Homo sapiens: one gene and its partners. The protein of the gene in region 1 purifies or fractionates together with the protein of each later gene. This does not show direct contact. Each region holds a gene or a part of one and is shown in the gene's direction. Other genes may lie near its edges.

Region 1 (5,783 bases):
CTGCATTCATAGTGGCTAATTTCTGTAAATATAACAATATGCTTTTCCCCAGTTTAGTTTAGATGGCCTCCTAATTGGGTTTATATCCAAAAAGCTTTAGGACTTTGGGCTTAGCTCATAGGAGAGTTCATGGATGTATGCTTGGAGTCCATGATTTTTTTTCCATATTAAAAGTGGAATATCAAGTATTTGAGAAACACTGGCTCATACATTGGCTCAGGTGGCTTCTCTCTCCCACCTCTCTACATTCATTGAGTCACTACTTGAATTTGTCTTCAATAGACAATGCACATTTGTTGGAAAGAGCTCTGGATGTGTGGGCACATGACAAAAAACTGATTTTCCCTCAGAATCGCCTCTCAAATCATCCAAATTCAGAGGCCCAGAATTGTTCCTGTTTTGCTCTCCCCTGTCCCCCAAAGACCTAGAGAGTAGAAGGATGCACAGAACCTGCTCTAAGACTATCTCCCGTCCATCCAGTCTATCAGCACATGATTTTCTATTACTCAAGGACTGCTTCACAGGAGTGGGGGTTTGAAGATAAGTTCTGGATATAAACTGAACCTTCTGTCATTCCAACAATAAGGTGGCCCAGTGAGAAAATCAACTAAGGTGGTTTGGCTAGGAGCAGCCTTTGGAAGTGTTGTTAGAAAAGATTTGCAAGAGTCTTACTTTATTCATAAATCGTAACTTTGACTAGTGTTGATGAACCAGTATTGGTCACATTTGCCAATTTGTGGGGAGTTGGCATGGAAAATATGGTGGAAAATTCCGGCTGTGATGTTAAAGGTAACCATTGAACACTTGCACAAACTCAGTTGAAGAAGTTGTGGTCTTGTCAGTTTGAGCTGAGTTCAGGACTGAATCTTGAGGTCCTGAAAAACAACTTAGCCAGCACCTTGTGACCTATACTTCACAGTCAGATGTTACGTATAGTAGCATTGTAGAAACTATGGCCAGGCTATGTGACATTTTAATAGTAAGCAGTACAGTGTCACCAAACAGCTAAAGGTTATAATTAAAAAACTGAGTAGAGAAATTTCAGATACTGGCTACCTAATCATTCATAGCTATTTGGCCACTGTGTTCACTAGATATTCTTTCACCTCTCAATGAAGGTCTCACAATTCACAACATTAAAAGTGATTTTCTGGCCTGACCAAGTGGCTCATGCCTGTAATCCCAGCACTTTTAGAGGCTGATGTGTTGAGGCTTAGCTAGGCTCAGGAGTTCAAGACCAACCTGGCCAACATGGTGAAACCCTGTCTCTACAAAAATTAATACAAAAAACTAGCCAGGCATGGTGTTGCATGCCTATAGTCCCAGCTACTCAAGAGGCTGAGGTGGGAGGATTGCTTGAGCCTGGCAGGTTGAGACTGCAGGGAGCAGTGTTTGTGCGACTGCACTCCAGCCTGGGCGACAGAGCAAGACCCTGTCAAAAAAAAAAAAAAGGCAAAAGACCAGGCACAGCGAGTCACACCTGTAATCCCAGCACTTTGGGAGGCTGAGGCAGGCAGATCATGAGGTCAGGAGATCGAGACCATCCTGGCTAACACGGTGAAACCCCGTCTCTACTAAAAATACAAAAAATTAGCTGGGCGTGGTGACAGGCGCCTATAGTCCCAGCTACTCAGGAGGTTGAGGCAAGAGAATGGGGTGAACCCGGGAGGCGGAGCTTGCAGTGAGCCGAGATCTCGCCACTGCACTCCAGCCTGGGCAACAGAGCGAGACTCCATCTCAAAAAAAAAAAAAAGGTGGCTTTCCTCAGTGAAGTTCCCATGTAACATAGCATAACCCTCCAGGGACTTCCCCAGAAGTTTGTTAGAATTGAGAGCAGAGCTAAGTCTCTGGTTGTCTCCTGATAGCACCAGATAACCCTTTTCTGGGGTCACCTAGGGTCTTGCAATCATTTTGTACCCAGGGCTCAGCCTTTGATGTTTGTAGCCTTTGCTCGAGGCTACTGTTTGAGTGAGCCCAAGTGTTCCAGATGAAACGATACAGGGACAAGTTCACATAATAAGGCTGTTCCCCATCACCACCTCGGCTACCAATCAGCTGGAGCCCTGCAGCTCCCCCTACTATTCCTTTCTCCACTGCTGTAGATTTCCAGGGCTCTGAGAAAAGGAGGAGGACGCAGACTCTGCTCTTCAGATCCACATGCTGATCCCCACTACAATCAGTGACCTGAACTCAGAGTCCAAGTAGGGTAAGAAGGGCTCTGCTGAGGTTGCTCGGGGGACAGCCAGGAACACTGGAAGGAGGCTGATTGAACTTTTAGATAGCAAACAATGGAGAAGGATCCAAATCATGGAAAACAAAGGTCTGAATTCTGGTTAGCCTCAGTCCCACTGATACAGGCTTTTCCCTGCCCCTCCCTTCCTTCACCGCCAGTCCTCCTAAGCACAGTGCATTAAAGCTGCTTGCATCCTACTCTTCTATCTTGTGTAGGCCTTTATCACCAGGACAGGGTTCCACAGATGAGGAACCCTGTGCCTGATGTGGGCATTTGACATCTTTAGAAGTGCTCTCACATGCTTGCATCTCATTAGACTCTTGCAGGTCTGTAGGGAGCTGTGATTAGGCCTATCTGAGGACACCGATACTCAGAGCTATGAATCAGGCTAGAGGTTCAGTAGGGCCAGGAATACTCCTCATGGCAAATGAGGACAGATAGCTGGTAAAGAGATAACTTTTTCAAACGACCATACATCCTATGCTGTGACCACAGTAGCTCTGCGGGGGACTGTTTTAGTTTTGGTGCCTGATTGATTACAGCAACAGTTCTAAACTGATGTCCTTTTATGATGGCATTGTCAATAAGCTCTAACAAATGAAGATCATTTGTAATAGCAGTAATTAGGGAAATGGCCTCTGAGAAGGGATGCCGATAGTTAATAATGATCACATGTTTCACCCAGACTTTGGGGAAAGTGTTATAAGGAAGTCAAGGTTGGAAAAACATCATTTTTCAGAGAAGTGCAATTGCAGCCTGGGCTGTGGTTTCCAGAATCAATGCCTTCTGCCTAGGAACCACCTCCCAAGTAGTTACTCATCTTCTACATTCCCTTAAAATGCAACAATCTTTTCCACTTTGCAGACAATACGCTTAAAATGTCATTTTTCTATTGGACACATGATCTCCTGAGAGCTTATTTGGTAAAAGAGAGCTCGATAGTGATTGGCTCCTCAAATTGGGTAGAAGACAGGGTAGACAGGAGATATTTGAAATTCTCAAAAGGTACTTTATCTATATTTTCCAAATTTGTGTTAGCTCTCACAGGCTAAAGCATATTTTTAGTTCTTAGAAACTGTATTCTTTTTTTTTTTTTTTTTTGAGACGGAGTTTTGCTTTTGTCACCCAGGCCGGAGTGCAGAGGTGTGATGTCGGCTCACCGCAACCTCCGCCTCCCAGGTTCAAGCGATTCTCCTGCCTCAGCCTCTCGAGTAGCTGGGTCTACAGCCACCATGTCCAGCTACTTTTTGTATTTTAGTAGAGATGGGGTTTCACCATGTTGGCCACGGTGTTTCTCGAACTCCTGACCTCAGGTGATACACCCACCTTGGCCTCCCAAACTGCTGGGATTACGGGTATAAGCCACTGTGCCCAGCCCAGAAACTGTATTCTTTAATGAGAATCATCATCTTCTAATATGGAACCAAATAGCAATATAGTGCCCAAGTACCTGCTTGGCAGGGAAAGGAATTTTAAGGTGGAGCTCAGCTCTCTGAGTATAGTCTGGTTAATGCTTTTCTTTCTCTTCCCTGTAGACACGCAGGTGGACGTGGTGACTGAGATGACATCCTCTCTAAAGATTTGGGGCATACTCTTGGCCCTGCTTTGCATCCTTTGCAGGCTGTGTGTATACAGTAACAACATTTACTGGAGAGAATTCATAAAACTTCATTACTTAAGTCCAAGTCGAGAATTCAAAGAGTACAAATGTGATGTCCTCATGAGAGAAAAAGAGGCTCTGAAAGGCAAGAGCTTTCATATGTTCATCTATAGCTTATGGTTCAAAATTCAGCGTGCATGCATCAATGAGAAGGGGAGCGACCGATATAGAAATGCATATGTATGGGCCCCAGGTGCCCTCAAAGTACTCGAGTGTCACTGGGAGAAGTACAACAATAGGTACACAGAGAGCAGAAGCTTCAGCTACATTGAATTCCATTGTGGCGTAGATGGATATGTTGATAACATAGAAGACCTGAGGATTATAGAACCTATCAGCAACTAGAAAGTCTATGCACATCCTCAGATATTGGTAGAGTATTCAGTGCTTCCAAAGTGGTGGGCCCTGCCTCCATCAATAGCCCCTGCCACTCCCCGCTTACATTTATGTGTCAGTGTTTTCCAACTACTTAGAGTTTATGTACCTCGTGATTTCTTGATACCAAATCTTTGTGTGGTTTCTGTATCTGTAATACAATTTTGTCCTAATTTGCCTAATTTACACCCACATTTTTTCCAAGATTCAGCTCATATGGCATCTGTCCTCGACTAACCTAAGACTTTCCTGATATTGACTCTCTTTATACCTACCCAAGCTGAACGACCCTCCTTTTCTTAAATAAAATATATTATTCTAACGTATGTGACGCTTATATATGTTATGTGTGCAGAGTATGTATCGTGTGATTGGTATGGGTATCGGTGATCTAGGCTATTTTTGCCTATGGCTGTGCAAGGGGTTTAATGTGCACTTTATGTGTCTGTGTCTAATGTATGTGATATGTTTATGTATATCATGTGGATATAAATGATTGTGTGCTAAACTGGAGACAAGTAGTGATGTAAGCACTCATCGTGGTAGCAATTTGAAATAATCAAAAGGGTCAAAATCCAGTTTTAAGGAGTGGGCTGGGCACTGTGACTCATGCCCATAATTTCAGCACTTTGGGAGGCTGAAACAGGTGGGTCACCTGAGGTCAGGAGTTTGAGACCAGCCTGGCCAACATGGTAAGGCCCTGTCTCTACTAAAAGTACAAAAATTTGCCAGGCTTGGTGGCACATACCTGTAGTTCTAGCTATGGGAGGCTGAGGCAGGAGAATCTCCTGAACCTGGGAGGCAGAAGTTGCAGTGAGCCGAGATCACGCCACTGCACTCCAGCCTGGATGACAGAGCAAGACTCCGTCTCCATCTCAAAAAAAAAAAAAAAAAAAGAGTTTACTAAAGTGAAAGGCTGGGAATGGACATTCTGTGGCACACAGATTCCAGAGAAATGGGGTCAGTACTCCAAAGTTAAAAGTTAAGTTCTTTTTTATGTAGGAAAAAGAGAAAGAAGTGAGAAAGGATTACATTTTCTATACCAGACTGGTTCAAGAGTTACAACAAATTAATTGGTTACACTTTTGTCCCCCCACCACATGACTTGTTCTATTTATAGTTGTTTTTCAATTCTCTCCAACTCTAAAAAGTGTGTTTAACTTTCCATCTTAAGACAGTGTGAAAGCCCAGAGGCTGAGATGGTTGGATCGCTTGAGCTCAGGAGTTTGAGACCAGCCTGGGCAACATGGCAAAACCCTGTCTCTACAAAAGAAAAACAAAAATTAGCCAGGCATGGTGGCATGTGCCTATAGTCCCAGCTACTGAGGAGGCTGAGGTGGGAGGATGGCTTGAGCCCAGAAGGCAGAGGTTGCAGTGAGCCGAGATTGTGCCACTGCACTCCAGCCTGGGTGACAAAGCCAGACCCTGTCGTGAAAACAAACAAACAAAAACAAAACAACAACAACAAAACAAAAAGACAATGTGAAAGCGATGAAGTCTTTGCATGAGAAAGGG
Region 2 (5,005 bases), on another chromosome or scaffold:
AATCCCTGCCTTACCCTTCCCGTTGTACATCCAGCGCTTAGATTTTCCCCCACAGGATTGCAGAAATAACATATTGAAATGGACCATTGTGTTACATAAGGTTTTCTCCAGCGCTAAGCAGAGAAAGAACAGCTTCTAAAAGAGTCTTTCCAGGTTTTGGTTAGCCCATCTAACTCTTTCAGCTGAGTTTGACAGGGATGGACAACTTCATGACTAAGCACTCTTAAGTGGAAGCAGTTAATTACAACAGCAGCATAGATGAAGATTCCTTAGTGAGGCTTATTAAGCTGTGCTTCTAGACTGTGGATCCTCTGTGATGCCACAGGGTATACAATGCTCTGTAGTTTTAAGATAGGAGATTTTTGTTCTGAGAAGCTGGTGAGAAATTGGCATCTTGAGATGGCATCGGAAAAAGCAAAGGGTTCTTTACTTTCCTGTGGTTATGTCTAGAATGAAGCCTCAAGCCCCCCCCCTGGGTCCCCCTAAAAGTTGGAGCATGTACTTTTCTTATTAAAATAAGAAATTATTTTACTGGAAAAATCTTGTGAGGGTTGGGGGGGGGGCCTCTGAAGGGAAAAGCCACATGGAAGCTTCTCTTGCCTTGAATTGAAACTCGATGGTGACTAGGAAGGGGCTAGAAAGATGGCCTGGGTGGTGTAAATTGCTTCACTCATGCACACTGCCTTTCTGAGAACATAGCAGCTACCCACAATGGCATATCCCCACCGTGGTTGCTAAATCATGTCTGTCTATGGGGGCTAAAGTTTGGAGGAAGGCACAGTAAGATGTATCTGGTGTCCTGATGAAATTGAGCCTGTAGGCTGGGTCAGTGCTCAGGCACCAGGTTTCCGGGCCTGCATCTAAGCCTGGGTCCCTGTGTTAGAGACAGTTGTTGCAGGAGAGTGGTAACTTTTTAGCAGCTTCCAGGGAAATGCAGTAACTTTCCAGCTAGTGCTGGAAAATATCAGGGCTATTCCCAGTTTTTTTCCCCTCAACCTGGCTACTTGACCTGGTGCTTTCAATTGAGGCTGCTCTTTTCTTATGGCAGAAGGCAGGAGAGTGCTAGCTGGATTTAAAGCCAACTTCTTGCCCCATGACCTTGGGCAACAATTTCTCCCTCCCTGACCCTAAATTTCTTCCTCTGCAAAACAGTGATGAAAAGATTATTATAAGAAAGTGAGAAAATGTATATGAAATGCATCTTGCCGATTGGAGAACACTTGTGCAATTGTAAAGGGTAAAAAATACAAAAAATTAAGTTTTATCGTAGATCTATTTTAATGTTCATTTTAATCATAGTTTGCATATGTCTGAGTAAATGACATATGCTAAACATTAAGTGGGAGAGATTTCTTTTAATTGGCCAGTCTCTTCTTGTGATCACTCCACCTGAATGCTACAAGCACCGGGCCTCACTACTTCTCAGAATGATTCCTTTCTTGTTTTCAGGATCACAGTCAATTTTTAGAGTGTTTTTCCTTTTAACATAATACACATTACATGTCTTAAGAAAATCTGTTTGAAGAGAGGGCCCTGATGTTAATTAATAATTTTTTTAAAAAAGGAGAAAAGTCACAAATGGGGAGTGACTCCACTGGGGAAAAGTAAAACATGACCAGTGTCACGAGATGACCCGGGTCCCCCTTGTCTGAATCTTTCATCAGCATAATGCACTGGCTCCTCATCATTGCATTTTAGGTGTTGTTCCAAACGTGTCTCCAGAACCTAACTCAGTGCCTGCCTGGCACTTAGACATTCAATAAGTATATTTGGAATAATTGAATGAGTGATTGGACTGAATCTTCACAGCAACCTTGGAGAGCAGATGGCGTCATTTCTATTTTAAGGATTTGGAATCTGCCGATCGGAAAACTTAATTAATTTTCTAAAGGTACAAAGGATTCCAGACTAGAATTCAGGCCTGTCTGTTCTTATTCCACTCTACAGTCGTGCTTGTAGTGCCCTCTCTCTTCAGACTCACTTAAAACCCTTCTAAGCAGTTGGAACCAAACATCCTATTTAGGGAACACAACCTTCCCTTCATAGAAGGATTTTTTTTTTTTTTTGTGGGAGATGGGCCTCTTTCTCCTTGTCCATATCTCCCAGCCCTGAACTAGGGCTTAGTTGAATGATCCCACCTGGGGCCTGGAATCTTGAAAGACTAGCTAAAGGGCACAGGGACATTGGAGTGTTTATTTACCACCTTGGATCATGGATCAAGTGGCGTTGGCAGCAGTATGCATGTCCCAAGCTGTGGTCCCAGAGGTGCCTTTTCTGCAACACCATCTTGATGTGCCTCTGGTGCCCAGGTTCCTTTCATTCCTTCTCATTTTCCAATCCTGGCTTTTCAGCTTCTCAGCAATTCCTAGAGGCAACCCATAGTCTTCAAGTGAATTCCCTTTCTCCCTGACTTAGCCAGAATTGCAACCCACTGATGTACAGCTTCTCCCCATTCATCTTCAGGCCTGTCTCCAGCATGAAACATCCTTAGCTTCCTCTACCCATGGGGAATGAAGTCTGTAGCTTTTTCAGATCGTTAGAATAATATCTACTGGGCCGTAGTTTGTCAATAGTTATGTGCTACTACAAGAGGTCTAGAAAAATGAATACATTATTCTTCCAAGCAATACTCTAAACATAACAGAAATAGATCCCAGTGGGCATCTTTCTTTTTCTCTAATACATTATGCTTTTTGGTAGTTTTCCAGCAGGGGTCGCAAACTCTAATGTCTTCAGCAGCCAGGCAAGTAACAGCTTGAGTGGAACAGGACTTGGGCCCTGTGCCTGGGTAAGTGGGGGTTGTAGCCCAGATCCAGCACAGGGGCTGCAGGCGGGACTTCAGGTCTGGTCTTGCCAGACCTGGTTATGTTTTTTTTTTTTTTTTTTTTTCAAGATAGACTGTCAATTCACAGTTTTATGTAAAATCTACTCACTTTCAAGTGCCAGCAGCTAATTCGATATTCCTAAATAACACCATGTGGGCCAAACCAAACATTTCTGTGTGTAAGCCTTATATCTGTCACACAGGCCTCCAATGTATGGCCTCTGGTTTCCAGGGATATGAGGGAAATTTGGAATATGAAATTCAGGAGGGCATGTTGTTCAGAATATCGAGGCAAGAGTGTAGGGACATGGAGCACAGACAGTGCTCTAGTTAGTTACTGTTTACAGAGTGAACCTCTGTTCGGGATGTTCCTTCTTCCTATCTCTGCAAGTGGTTACAGCAATCATGTTTACTCCTTTAACACGTTTATTGAGTTCCAGCCATGTACCGCATATTGTTCTGCTCACCGGTGACACAGTAGGGAACAAAACAGATGGAAGTCCTCGCCCTTGTGCTTATCTTCCAGCAGAGGAGACAGACAAAACACAAGACAGATAAGCAGAATCTCTCCTAGTTAGATAGTGATGTGCTAAGGATTAAAAAATAAAAACTAGAGGAAAGTGATAGGAAATATCAGGATACTGGGGAGAAACCTTAGGCTGTTAGCCAGGGAGCCTGCAGTTCAGTCTCTGGCTCAACATAACCCAAAGTTAAATTTCATTATCCAACATAAAATATTTTCTATGTGGGAGTTTGATTGTATCCTGGGTCTATCATCCATTGGGTAGTTTTGGATATTGAGCTATACTCTCAATTTTAATAAAACTGACTATTGAGCACGTTTATTGTCTGCCATGTACCCGGCATTGCATTACGTGTTAGAGTACATTGATGAACAAAACCAGTCAAGGACTACTCTGCAAGGAAATTATAGACCAGCATGAAATACATTAAACATGATCTCAAATGATTAGGCAACTACAGTGATTGAGGACTGTGGTAAGGATGCCTTAATTGTTGAGTTTTCATACTCAGAACTCTGACGTTCAGCACTTTTTTTTTTTTTTTTTTTTTTTTTTTTGACGGTGTCTCGCTCTTGTTGCCCTGGCTGGAGTGCAGTGGCGTGATCCCAGCTCACTGCAACCTCTGCCTCCTGGGTTCAAGGGATTCTCCTATCTCAGCCTCCTGAGCACCTTTTAACTTGATCATTTGTTTTGTTCCAGGAACAGTTTACATCTGTGCTTATTAACTTACTTTAAGCCTGCTCCCATCGTCCACGGAAATTTTTTTGAGGCTTTAATTTCTTTATCTGGCAATGACATTTTTATTATAAAATTTCATTTTGCATTATTAAAAGTATTTATTTTTAAAAAATGTGTTCCAAGTGTAAAGTGTGCTTGTGCCCTTGGAGACTCTGGTACACCTTCTCCCAAATCTGCCCCTACCTTTGCTATTGATTGTCGTTCACAAGGCAGTTGTGCAGGATATTAAGAAATAGTTCTTGTCATTGATGAATTTACAGTTTAGTATGGGAGTCAGATAAATAACCGAGTCTCTGCCTGTCTCATGAGATGGACCATCCCAAGAATATTTCCCTTTCATCACCTTCTTTCTTTCATGGTAATAATTTCTTCAGTAACATAATTAGGTAGCAAGTATGTTTATCTGGAGTCACCTTGTTACTGGATTGGCTTATTTGCTTACTTTCTCACACTCTCCCACCAGAATATGTGCTCCAGGAGAGCAGGGGCAGTGTCTGTTTGCTCCAGTTTCTAGAACAGTGTATTGCTCAGAAAAGAAGAAACAGGCGGCATTTCTGTCTGGGGGAGTTAGGAAGCGGTTCATGGTGGAAGAAATATTTAAGAAAAGAGATGTGGTGAGAACAGCCAAAGAAGAATGATAAGACGTAGTCAAAATTGCATAGCCCTCAAACCTTTGTTGAAAACTCATTTGTCTATTTTAGGGATTCCCAATACGGTCAGTCCAGCTGAATAACTGGCATATTAATACAAGCGCTTTGCTGAATAGATCCTGGTCTGCTTGTGCAAAAGCACTCTGGCATGAAAAGAATGTAGTAGATAATTCCTTACTTTCACATAATGTGACAATACCCACTGCCTCCTTTATCTCTCGTACCCAGTCCTGCGAGGACTGCAGGGGAGCTCTCACCATCTTCATTTG
Region 3 (5,463 bases), on another chromosome or scaffold:
GTCCTGAGATGTCTAGTTCCTGACCAATTCTACAGGTTGCCTTGCTCCCATAATATGCTCCAATCTACAATGTTCATCTTAATCTGCAGTGAGTAAACATAATTGATAGCTAAATTTACTTCTTGTTCCAAATCTTTAGGATATGATTCATGTGTGTTATATACATACATATATATATGTGTATGTGTGTTTATACTTACATATATTTCTTTTTCTTATTTTACTTCTGGCTAAGATGGAGTAATAGGGAGCATATTTACCCTCTAACCCTCCTGCATGAAACAACCTCAAACCAGACAAAATATATGAAACTATGGTTTTCAGTACACTGGACATGAGGCACGGAATGTAATCCCTGAAAGACAGGAAACATAAGATGTGTGCTGTGAGTATCCCAGCTTACAACTTGAGAGAATTTGAGACAGCAGTGACAATGGAGATAGATAGCTTAAGGAAGCCTAGCAAGTCTCTGAATGGAGTAGCTGTTGCTGAGAGTTCAGGTACACGAAGGTGGCTAGAGATTGCAGGATAGAGTACCGGCGAGGAAAGAGCTGCATTGGAGAAAACTTTGCAAATCTGGAGAGGGTCGCCCTTCAGTGTGTAACAAAGTGCATGAAACTACCTGAGGCAAGGGAAAGAAACACTCAAAAGAATTACAGCGGCATTTATCAACCTTTAAAAAATTATTATTGACCTCAAGGAATCTTTTTAAACATCTTTTCTAGTCACCTCTCTATGAATTTTTTAATTTTTATTTAATTTAATTTAATTTTATTTTATTTTTGAGACGGAGTCTTGCTCTGTCGCTCAGGCTGGAGTGCAGTGGCGCGATCCTGGCTCACTGCAAGCTCCGCCTCCAGGGTTCATGCCATTCTCCTGCCTCAGCCTCCCGAGTAGCTGGGACTACAGGCACAAGCCAACATGCCCAGCTAATTTTTTTTTTTTTTTTTTTTTTTGTATTTTTAGTGGAGGCAAGGTTTCACCGTGTTAGCCAGGATGGTCTCGATCTCTGGATCTCATGATCTGCCCACCTCAGCCTCCTAAAGCGCTGGTATCACAGGCGTAAGCCACTGCGCCCGCCCTGAAATTTTAATATCGCACATGCACTGCATATCTCTTTAGTACTATACGTATATCTGGGCTTTACACAAAAAGAATATTTTTCTTCTCTTCACTTCTCCCATCCCCCCCAAAAAAACTAATTTCTGTCGTTTTGGGGACAATATTACTCTCACTGAGAGTGCATGTTCACATACAACCATGAATAGAGGTGGTTGCCATGGGCTATACCAGAAATCCCCATAATTAATAGGGCATTAGGTAGAATATTCATAGGGGTCTTGCCTCAGTCCTGGCAAGTCCTAGACCATGTATTACTATGGCGGCCCCACTGAACAAATCTTCAAAGATTTGGAAAAAAAGATCAAACCGTTTCCAATAACTAATTGGCATCTCTGAGCAAAGTTCACATGTATTTCCAGTAACATAAAACTATCCAACACCAGGCCGGGCACAGTGGCTCATGCCTGTAATCCCAGCACTTTGGGAGGTCGAGGCAGGCAGATCACGAGGTCGGGAGATGGAGACCATCCTGCTAACAAGGTGGAAACCCCGTCTCTACTAAACATACAAAAATTAGCCGGGCGTGGTGTTGGGCGCCTGAAGTCCCAGCTACTCGGGAGGCTGGGGCAGGAGAATGGCATGAACCCGGGAGGCAGAGTTTGCAGTGGGCCGAGATTGCGCCATTGCACTCCAGCCTGGGCAACAGAGCCAGACTCCATCAAAAAAAAATCCAACACCCAACGAGGTAAAATCACAATGTCTGGTATACAATAAAAAATTACCAAGTGTGTGAAGAGGCAGAAAAATAGGACCTATAATGAGGATAAAAATCAATCTAAAATGACCCAGCACATACCCAGATGTTAGAATTACTAATGAAAAATATTATGACTATATTCCGTATTTTCAAAGATTAGGATGTGACAAGAAAAGGCTTTAATTAAACTTCGAGAGATGACAATGTTAATGTATAAGATTAAAAAATACAATGGATGTAATTAATGGCAGATGAGAGTTTTCAGAAGAAAATATTAATAAACTTGAATATATATAGCAGTAGAAAGCATCCAAAATGAAACAGAGACAGAAAAAAAACAAAGAATAATCAGAGTATCGGTGATCTGTGGGACAACTTCAGTTGCCTAATCTGTGTGTATTTGGAGTTCTCAAAGGAGAAAAGAGAGTGGATGGATAGAAAAAAATATTTTTAAAAATTAATACATAAGCATTTTCCACATTTGATGCAAACTATAAACCCACAGACCCAGCTCAACATCCCCAAGTAGGGGTGCTATTAAGAAAACCACATCACAACACATCATAAGCAAATGGATCAAAACTCAGTGTGGTAAAGAGAAAAAGACAAGTCTTACACAGAGAAGAAAAACAAGGATGATACCAGACTTCTTTTTGGAAGCAATGCAAGGGGAAGGGCAGTGGAGCAACATCTTTCATGCTTCCAGTGAAACATCTTCCAACCAAAAGCAGAAAACTCTCTCTCCTAGGTTTCTATACCCAGCAAAACCGTCTTTCAAGAAAGGATGAAACAAAGATATTTTTCAGACATAGAAAAGTTAAAAGTAATATATTATCAGCAAACCTGGACTATGAGAACAGTGTAAAAGCCTTTCAGGAAGAAGGAAAATAAAGAATAATATCTTTGTGCAGATAGAAACATGGATCCACACAAAGAAATGAAGAGCACTGGCAATAGTAACACCATAAGTAAATATACAATACCTGCCCTTATTACTTAAATATCTTTTAAAGATAATTGGCTGTTTAGAAATAATAGCAGTGTCATGTGAGTTCTGCAGCATGAGTAAAAGTAAAATATATGACAACAATAACCTAGAGTAAATGGAAATATAGTTTAGTTTGTAAGGTTCTTAGACTGTGTGTAAAGTCGTATAATGCCTATTAAAAGTTGGCTATTACAAGTTATCTTTAAGTTAAAACATCTGTATGGTGTAATCCCTAAAGCAAATGCTAGAGTAACAAAAACAGTGATAATATTACAATATTACACAATAATATTACAATGCAGCGATGAAATAGAATAAATTTTTAAATGCTTGAAAGTAGACAAAAAAGATGAGAAAGAGGACAAAGAACAAATGGGACAAATAGAAAGCAAATAGCAAGATATAAAATAAAAATCTGATAAATTTGACCTTAAGATTAACAACTCTCCTTTTAAAATACATTGTTAAGAGAATAAGAGTCAAGCTACAGACTGGGAGAAAATATTTGCAACACTTTATTTGAATGCTGTAAATTTTTTTCAGAATATAGTTCATAAAGAACTCTTAACAACTCAATAATTAGCAAAAATAAAATGAAAATAATGAATATAAGAAAAAATGACGAAAAGTGCTAGGCCAGTGGACAAAAAGCACACAAAAATGTTCAATATCGTTTTGTCATTAAGGAAATGCAAATTAAAACCACAGTGAGTTATTCTTCCCACTAAAATGGTTATGATTAAAAATATTGTCAGTACCACGTGTTGTTGAGAATATGGAGCAATTATAATTCTCATACATTATTGTTGGAATGTAAAATGCTACAACCACTTAGGAAAAATTGTTTAACATTGTTTTATATAATTAAGCATACATGAAACCTATGACCCAACAATTCCAATCCTAGATTGAAAAGAAATGAAAACTTATGCCCATTATAAGACTTACACAAGAACGTTTATAGCATCTTTACTTATAATATCCCCAAACTGTAAACTGCCTAAAAGACCTTCAACAAGAAAATGGACAAACAATTTGTGTTGTATTAATAATGAAATACTCTTCAGCTATAAAATGGACAAAACTACTGGTAACTGCAACAAACATGGCTGAATCTAAAAAACCTTGTGTTGAATGAATAAATCTAGACACTATAGGGTACATTCTGAAGTCCTAGAACAAGCGAAACTAAGATATAGCAGTAGAAATTGTATCAGTAGTTACCTGGGTTGAGGTGGGATGGGAGTTGACTGCAGAGAAACACAAGGGAAGTTTCTGGAGTGATGGAAATGTTCTATGTCTTGATTGACTATGGTTACATTGGTGTGGACATTTGTCAAAACTCTGAATTTCATATTTGGAATTTGTATATTTTGTATATAAATTATACTTCAATAAATATGTACATGTATATATATGTGTATATATAATACATTTTGATATGTCATGATGTCTATCACTTCACAGCATATTATATTTCTATCATACCATATTTACATAATGGAAAAAGATGAAAAGGATGCTGTATTTTGGGGAAATCACAAGAGATTATCACCTTTATTTATTTTTTATACAAATACATATAAATCTTTCACAGTACAATACAAATGTCAAAATGTGGTATTTTCATTGCTCTATAAATTCTTATATGTTCTATGTATGTAATAAATGTTAAAAACAGTGTTTATATGTTGTATATGTTTATTTGTTCTATGTGTTTACATGTTCACTGTTCTATAAATTCTCATATATTGTATACTATACAATCAGGTGATGAGCTGCTCAGTAAATAAGTGCTGAACACTCTGCATCCCTCATCACGTCAAGCATTTCACATCCCTTTTCCTGTAGGCTTCCACAGTAGACATTTGACTTGCCAATTACATTTTCATCCATCATTCTGGAGAAGCCTGGAGAAACAGCTAGACACAGGGGACATACTCCTATACCTTGCTCATTGTGCCTTGGAATTATACATATTGAAATATTGTAAAGATTTGCTTCATTTGTATCAACATGGCTGTGAAATTAGATGTCAACTCTACCTCAGTTCCAACTTTTAGGAGGAATCCAGATAGTTTATTAGAAAATAGAAGTGCAAAAATGTTTGCTGTTTGATTCTCAGACCATAGCCTGAGATTAGCAATATTAAAAAAAAAAATAGCAGACAGAAGAGGCCCAAGTCTCTCCCAGCTCCTGGGATGCATGGAAGCAATGGGCTGTGATGTCCTACTGAGGTAAAAGAAGTAGTGTTTGTTATAGTCCCACGAGCAGAAGCAGTAAGAACTTGAGGTAGGGTGCACCTAAAACTGAGAACAAGGGAAAGCTGAAGTAGGAAGTGTCACCAGGGAGGGACTATGGGTCCTTACTATGCGAAGAGAGAAAAGGATTTAATTAGGTCCAACAGAATATAATGCCATTTCAAAAACATTTTCTGTTAGGACAGTTTCCAGAGACTCTAAGTGGTTGTTTTTTGTGTGATGATTTTTGAGCTTGGTAGAATTTTTCTAGTCTGACTGGATCAGTTCTAGAAAGCTGCTCAGATGAATATGCAATGAATGCTTTCTCTCTTCACATACTTCTCAGTTAGAAGGAGAATATTTCAGGCCAAAAGGATGCAAGACCGTAGTTATATATGCCACAATCAGATCAGTGA
Region 4 (5,005 bases), on another chromosome or scaffold:
GCGGGCGTGGTGGCACATGCCTGTAATTCCAACTACTCGGGAGGCTGAGGCAGAAGAATCGCTTGAACCCGGGAGGCGGAGGTTGTGGTGAGTGGAGATTGCGCCATTGCACTCCAGCCTGGGCAACAAAAGTGGAACTCCATTTCAAAAAAAAAAAAAAAAACAACTAAAACGACAAAGAAAGAATGGAGGGGTCACTTGTTGAATGGGTCGGTAGACGTTTCAGGTAGTTTCTGATTTCAATGATCTTAATTTAGGCAGTTTGAAAAGGTCAGTTTAAAAAATTGAGGCTGCAAATGGTAATTTCTGAATGAGTAGAGTGAAACCATGGGCGTTCAGAGGGGGAGAGTTGGCTGTGGGATAGGCATGGGGGTTACTATGGGATGCTTTATGGAAGAGGATGGTCTAAACTGTTTTTTAAAAGATTAGTTGTGTTTTAAATGCTTGGGCATGGGAGTGGGAGGTGGGGAGCAAGATAAGAAGTGAGACAAGAAGGAGAGGTCTGGCTGGCAATTTCGGGGTGCACTCAGGTAGTGTTTGAGGGAGACTGCTCAGGCTGTGTGCAGGAGGATGGCTGTAGCCCAGGAGTGAGGGGATGGGCAGCCTTGTGGTGGTAGCTGTGGGAGTGGAGAGGATGGAAGAGAGAAGCATAGGACTTTGGTGTTCATTGGATTTGGGGGGTGGGGAGAGGGAGGGAAAATTCAGAAATGTAAAGTCTTGCAAAATCCTGATGTTAGCGAAAATAGGAAAATGACATGGTTGCTCATTTTAGATATGTGAATTCAAGGTGTCCAGGATATCCAAGTAGAAATTTCCTGCAGGTAACTGGAGGTGTTGGGCATGAACTCCAGAGAAGGGCAAGGATGGGAATTTTGGCTTTAGGGTACAATCACAGAGATGACAAGCTAAGCAATAGGATTGCTGAGACCTTGGAGGAAGGGAGAAGAACAGATGTCCAAAATTCCCACATTTAGGGAGAGGAAAGAGGAACTGAAAAGGACACTGAGAGGATGCAGAAAGAGAGGTAGGAAGTGAAGGGGGTTATTTTGGAGCCGCGGAAGTTAAGGGAATCCATAATATTAACAAGGGAGTAATCAGTGATGTTGGATGCCTCCTAGAGAGAGGCCACTGAATCTGGATATTATAGTGCTACCAATAATTTTTGAGAGTTCAATTTCATGAGAATACTACAGACGGAAACTGTATTTAATCGTACTTAAATCCTTTGTGTTTTTAAGATGTTTTGTTTTGACCATTAGGTGAAGGTAACTCGTGCTGATGGCAACCAACTGACTCTTGAAGAAAGAAGAAATAATGTAGTCATAACAGTGACACAGAGAAACTATACTGAGTACTGGAGCGGATCTAACAGTGGAAATCAGAAAATGGAAGCTGTTCAGAAAATAAATTATACTGTCCCCCAAAGTGGAACTTTTAAGATTGAATTCCCAATCCTGGAGGATTCCAGTGAGCTACAGTTGAAGGTGCCGTCTGTTTCCCATCATTGTGTCACTGCAACAACACCATTACAGTTGTAATCTTGTGGTAGGCACTCAACCTGTCAGAACTGAAAGTACATAGGAAGTGGACACATGTTTCTGTTTCACAAAATGGAGGAGAGTGGTAAAAGTAATTTAATGACAGTGGCTGAAGGTTAGACTAAATTTTTCCTTGTAAGTTCATTTTGAAGAGCACAGTAAAATATAGCAATGTGAAGATATGATGGAGAATTTCCTCAAATCCCCAGTCTAGTGTTTGAGGTCAGTCATTTGAAATTTTATTTTGGCAGGAATTGAAATGAAAGATAAATATATATACATATATATATATACACACATATATATGTATATGTATATGTGTGTGTGTATATATATATATATATATTCCTTTCCTGTGTTTTAAAGCTATCAGTTTCTTTACAGTATAAGCTATAAAATGATGAAAATCCAATGTCTGGTGAATGTATTTTTCTTGCATTAAAAAAAAGTGAAGATGAATTTGGTCTTTAATAATTGTTCAGCAGGTAACATCTTTTCTCAAGGTGTTACTAAAGATGAACATTTACAGCTCCTTTTTCTTTTATTATAGGCCTATTTCCTTGGTAGTAAAAGTAGCATGGCAGTTCATAGTCTGTTTAAGTCTCCTAGTAAGACATACATCCAACTAAAAACAAGAGATGAAAATATAAAGGTAATGCTTACAATTCACTTGAGAATTACAATATAATTGGACTATCTTGCTTTTGATATGTACATATTAATTAAGGTTTTTTTCTAGGTGGGATCGCCTTTTGAGTTGGTGGTTAGTGGCAACAAACGATTGAAGGAGTTAAGCTATATGGTAATCTCTTATAGAATCTAAATTTATGATCTATTATAGAATCATCTTTTTATTCACTTTTAAGTTCTGGGGTACATGTGCAGGTTTGTTATATAGCTAAACTCATGTCATGGGGGTTTGTTGTACAGATTATTTCATCACCCAGGTATTAATCCTAGTACCCATTAGTTATTTTTCCTGATCCTCTCCCTCCTCCTACCCTCCACCCTCCCATAGGACCCAGTGTCGGTTGTTCCCCTCTATGTGTCCATGTGTTCTCATCATTTAGTGTGCACTTATAAGTGAGAATATGTGGTATTTGGTTTTCTGTTCCTGCATTAGTTTGCTAAGGATAGTGGCCTCCAGCTCCATCCATCTTCCTGCAAAGGACATGATTTTATTCTTTTTTATAGCTGCATAGTATTCCGTAGTATATGTGCACCACGTTTTCTTTATCCAGTCCACCTTTGATGGGCATTTAGGTTGAGAATCATCTTAAATGGTGTCTACCTTATATCTACACTAAACTTATTAATTTTTATAACTCAGCCTCATACCTTTTTAGCCTGTCGTTTTAACATTGCAATCAAATAAAAAACCTTTTTTATTTCTTCACCTATGTTTGCATTTCCAATTTAAAATAGATAACTAAACCTTGTTTTATGTTTAAAATTTAAATTTCTATTTGATAAGCAATATATATTCATTATAGAAAATTATACAATGTAAGAAAAATGAAAAAGAAAATAAAAAGTGCTATCCATGACCATGTAATTTTGCTAATTCAGCTTTCCCAATGGTGCCCTGTATTCCTTGCAATCAAAAATAGATTCTTGACTATGAAGCTACTGTTGCTCCAATCAGTATTACTTTAATCTTACCATTTTCTTTTTCTCAGTGTATGCTCTCTGTGTTTGTCAGAGAGGTTTTCCTGCATTCCAAAAGACTTTGAAGCTGGTTTAATTCAAGAATTTGTGTGTATGCATACAATTATGATTAATGTAGCTTCAGATGAGATCCTACTAGGTTTGGCAATAAATTAAACCCATCTACTGTTCTTTTCAGGTAGTATCCAGGGGACAGTTGGTGGCTGTAGGAAAACAAAATTCAACAATGTTCTCTTTAACACCAGAAAATTCTTGGACTCCAAAAGCCTGTGTAATTGTGTATTATATTGAAGATGATGGGGAAATTATAAGTGATGTTCTAAAAATTCCTGTTCAGCTTGTTTTTAAAAATAAGGTAAGATTTAAGGTAATGATGTTTAAAAGAAAACTTTATATTAGTGAAGTCTGAGAAATGTAATATTTCTTTAGAAAAGTATCATTAAGCCAAACTGGTTAGAAATTTATATTATTCTATTTCTAGAACTATGGTTAAACTTTTCAATATTTAGCATTACATATATATTTTCACTTGTGGAGTTATTGGGGATTGATAGTCTATTTGTAAACTATGGTTCTGGTCTTTAAGACTTTAACTCAGATCATGAAGCTGTTTCAGAATTTTTCAAATGGTTGAATTAATATTGCTCAGGAGTGAAATTCCAGTGGTAACATAGAATTCGTGTGGTGTTGATATTGCAGTGATATAAAGGGTGTGGGAAGGAGTGAGGCCATCTAGGATAATACGTAGAAGCAGAGCTGGGCTTTCATTAATCTATTTAATTAGCTGGAAACTAGCCCAGGGCAACTTTTCAATGAGCTTGATTACCCTGCATGTGAGGATCTGTGTGGAGTCTGGTCTCCAAGTGCACCAGTGCCTTTTATAGCCTAATGTGACCAGCTTGAGTAGGAAATCCCTTTGGACCCCAGCTCTGAAAAGAAACCTGATTGCATCATCTCATGTATATAAGAATGAGCCATTGCTGTCACTAACAACTGCTGCCCTCTCCATCCTCTTATGTAAAAAATTATTCCTTTAAATAGTGATTTGCAGAGTATGGTTCTTCTATTTCTTTTTCCTTTATTTGTTAAAATATTTGAGAAGTAACAGTAGTGATCTGTACTTTCTTTTTTAAAATTTGTATTTATTTATTTTTTGAGACTAGGTTATAAGACTGGCTAATTTTTGTATTTTCGGTAGAGAGAGGGTTTTGCCATGTTGCTCAGGTTGGTCTCTAACTCCTGGGCTCAGGAGATCCACCTGCCTCAGCCTCTCAAGGTGCCGGGATTACAGACATGAGCCACTGCGCCAGGCCTGTACTTTAGTTTTGTTGAGAATTATTACTCTCACTTTGATTGTTAAAATATAATACAAACTTCTATTTTTTTAGCTTATGAAAAGAGTTCTTAAAAAGATAACACTGTGTTTTGTTAGTGGTAGAGCACAATTTTTGACTTCTAGTGATCCTAGTAATTGCCTGACAAAGGTGAATTTTAAAGTAGAAGTTATGGAGGCTTAAACATCTCAGAAAGCAAGACCAGGTTCTAAAGCTGGTTACAGTGTAAAAGATCACGGACTTTGAGGAAGCAGAGTATATGAATAGCATACTTTCAAGTAATTTCTTAGCTATAAGAGAAAGGAATTAGTTTCAGTTCCATTTGCAACTATATATCTTTCTCTTATTTTTATGTGATAATCATCACATTTATAAAGAAACAACATAATTAGAAATGGAATATGTCTAAGCAAGAGAAAGTTAGTGAATGTTTATTAATGTTCAGTAATGACTATGGAATAAATA

Evidence for each region. The genes of interacting proteins can lie anywhere in the genome.
Region 2: the proteins of EDDM3A (region 1) and HS3ST1 purify together in Homo sapiens (affinity purification with mass spectrometry; one large-scale study listed by BioGRID and IntAct). This does not show direct contact.
Region 3: the proteins of EDDM3A (region 1) and CNTNAP3 purify together in Homo sapiens (affinity purification with mass spectrometry; one large-scale study listed by BioGRID and IntAct). This does not show direct contact.
Region 4: the proteins of EDDM3A (region 1) and CD109 purify together in Homo sapiens (affinity purification with mass spectrometry; one large-scale study listed by BioGRID and IntAct). This does not show direct contact.

The regions. Positions count from the first base shown.
Region 1 is NC_000014.9:20,743,787-20,749,569, forward strand, and holds EDDM3A (epididymal secretory protein E3-alpha precursor), read left to right. Parts: upstream 1-2,100; 5' UTR 2,101-2,206; intron 2,207-3,768; 5' UTR 3,769-3,794; coding exon 3,795-4,238; 3' UTR 4,239-4,594; downstream 4,595-5,783. UniProt on the Homo sapiens protein: Possible function in sperm maturation.
Region 2 is NC_000004.12:11,421,922-11,426,926, reverse strand, and holds part of HS3ST1 (heparan sulfate glucosamine 3-O-sulfotransferase 1 precursor), read left to right. Parts: intron 1-5,005. UniProt on the Homo sapiens protein: Sulfotransferase that utilizes 3'-phospho-5'-adenylyl sulfate (PAPS) to catalyze the transfer of a sulfo group to position 3 of glucosamine residues in heparan. Catalyzes the rate limiting step in the biosynthesis of heparan sulfate (HSact).
Region 3 is NC_000009.12:39,063,737-39,069,199, reverse strand, and holds the end of CNTNAP3 (contactin-associated protein-like 3 isoform 1 precursor), read left to right. Parts: 3' UTR 1-4,490; downstream 4,491-5,463.
Region 4 is NC_000006.12:73,764,671-73,769,675, forward strand, and holds part of CD109 (CD109 antigen isoform 1 preproprotein), read left to right. Parts: intron 1-1,259; coding exon 1,260-1,484; intron 1,485-2,088; coding exon 2,089-2,190; intron 2,191-2,277; coding exon 2,278-2,340; intron 2,341-3,384; coding exon 3,385-3,561; intron 3,562-5,005. UniProt on the Homo sapiens protein: Modulates negatively TGFB1 signaling in keratinocytes.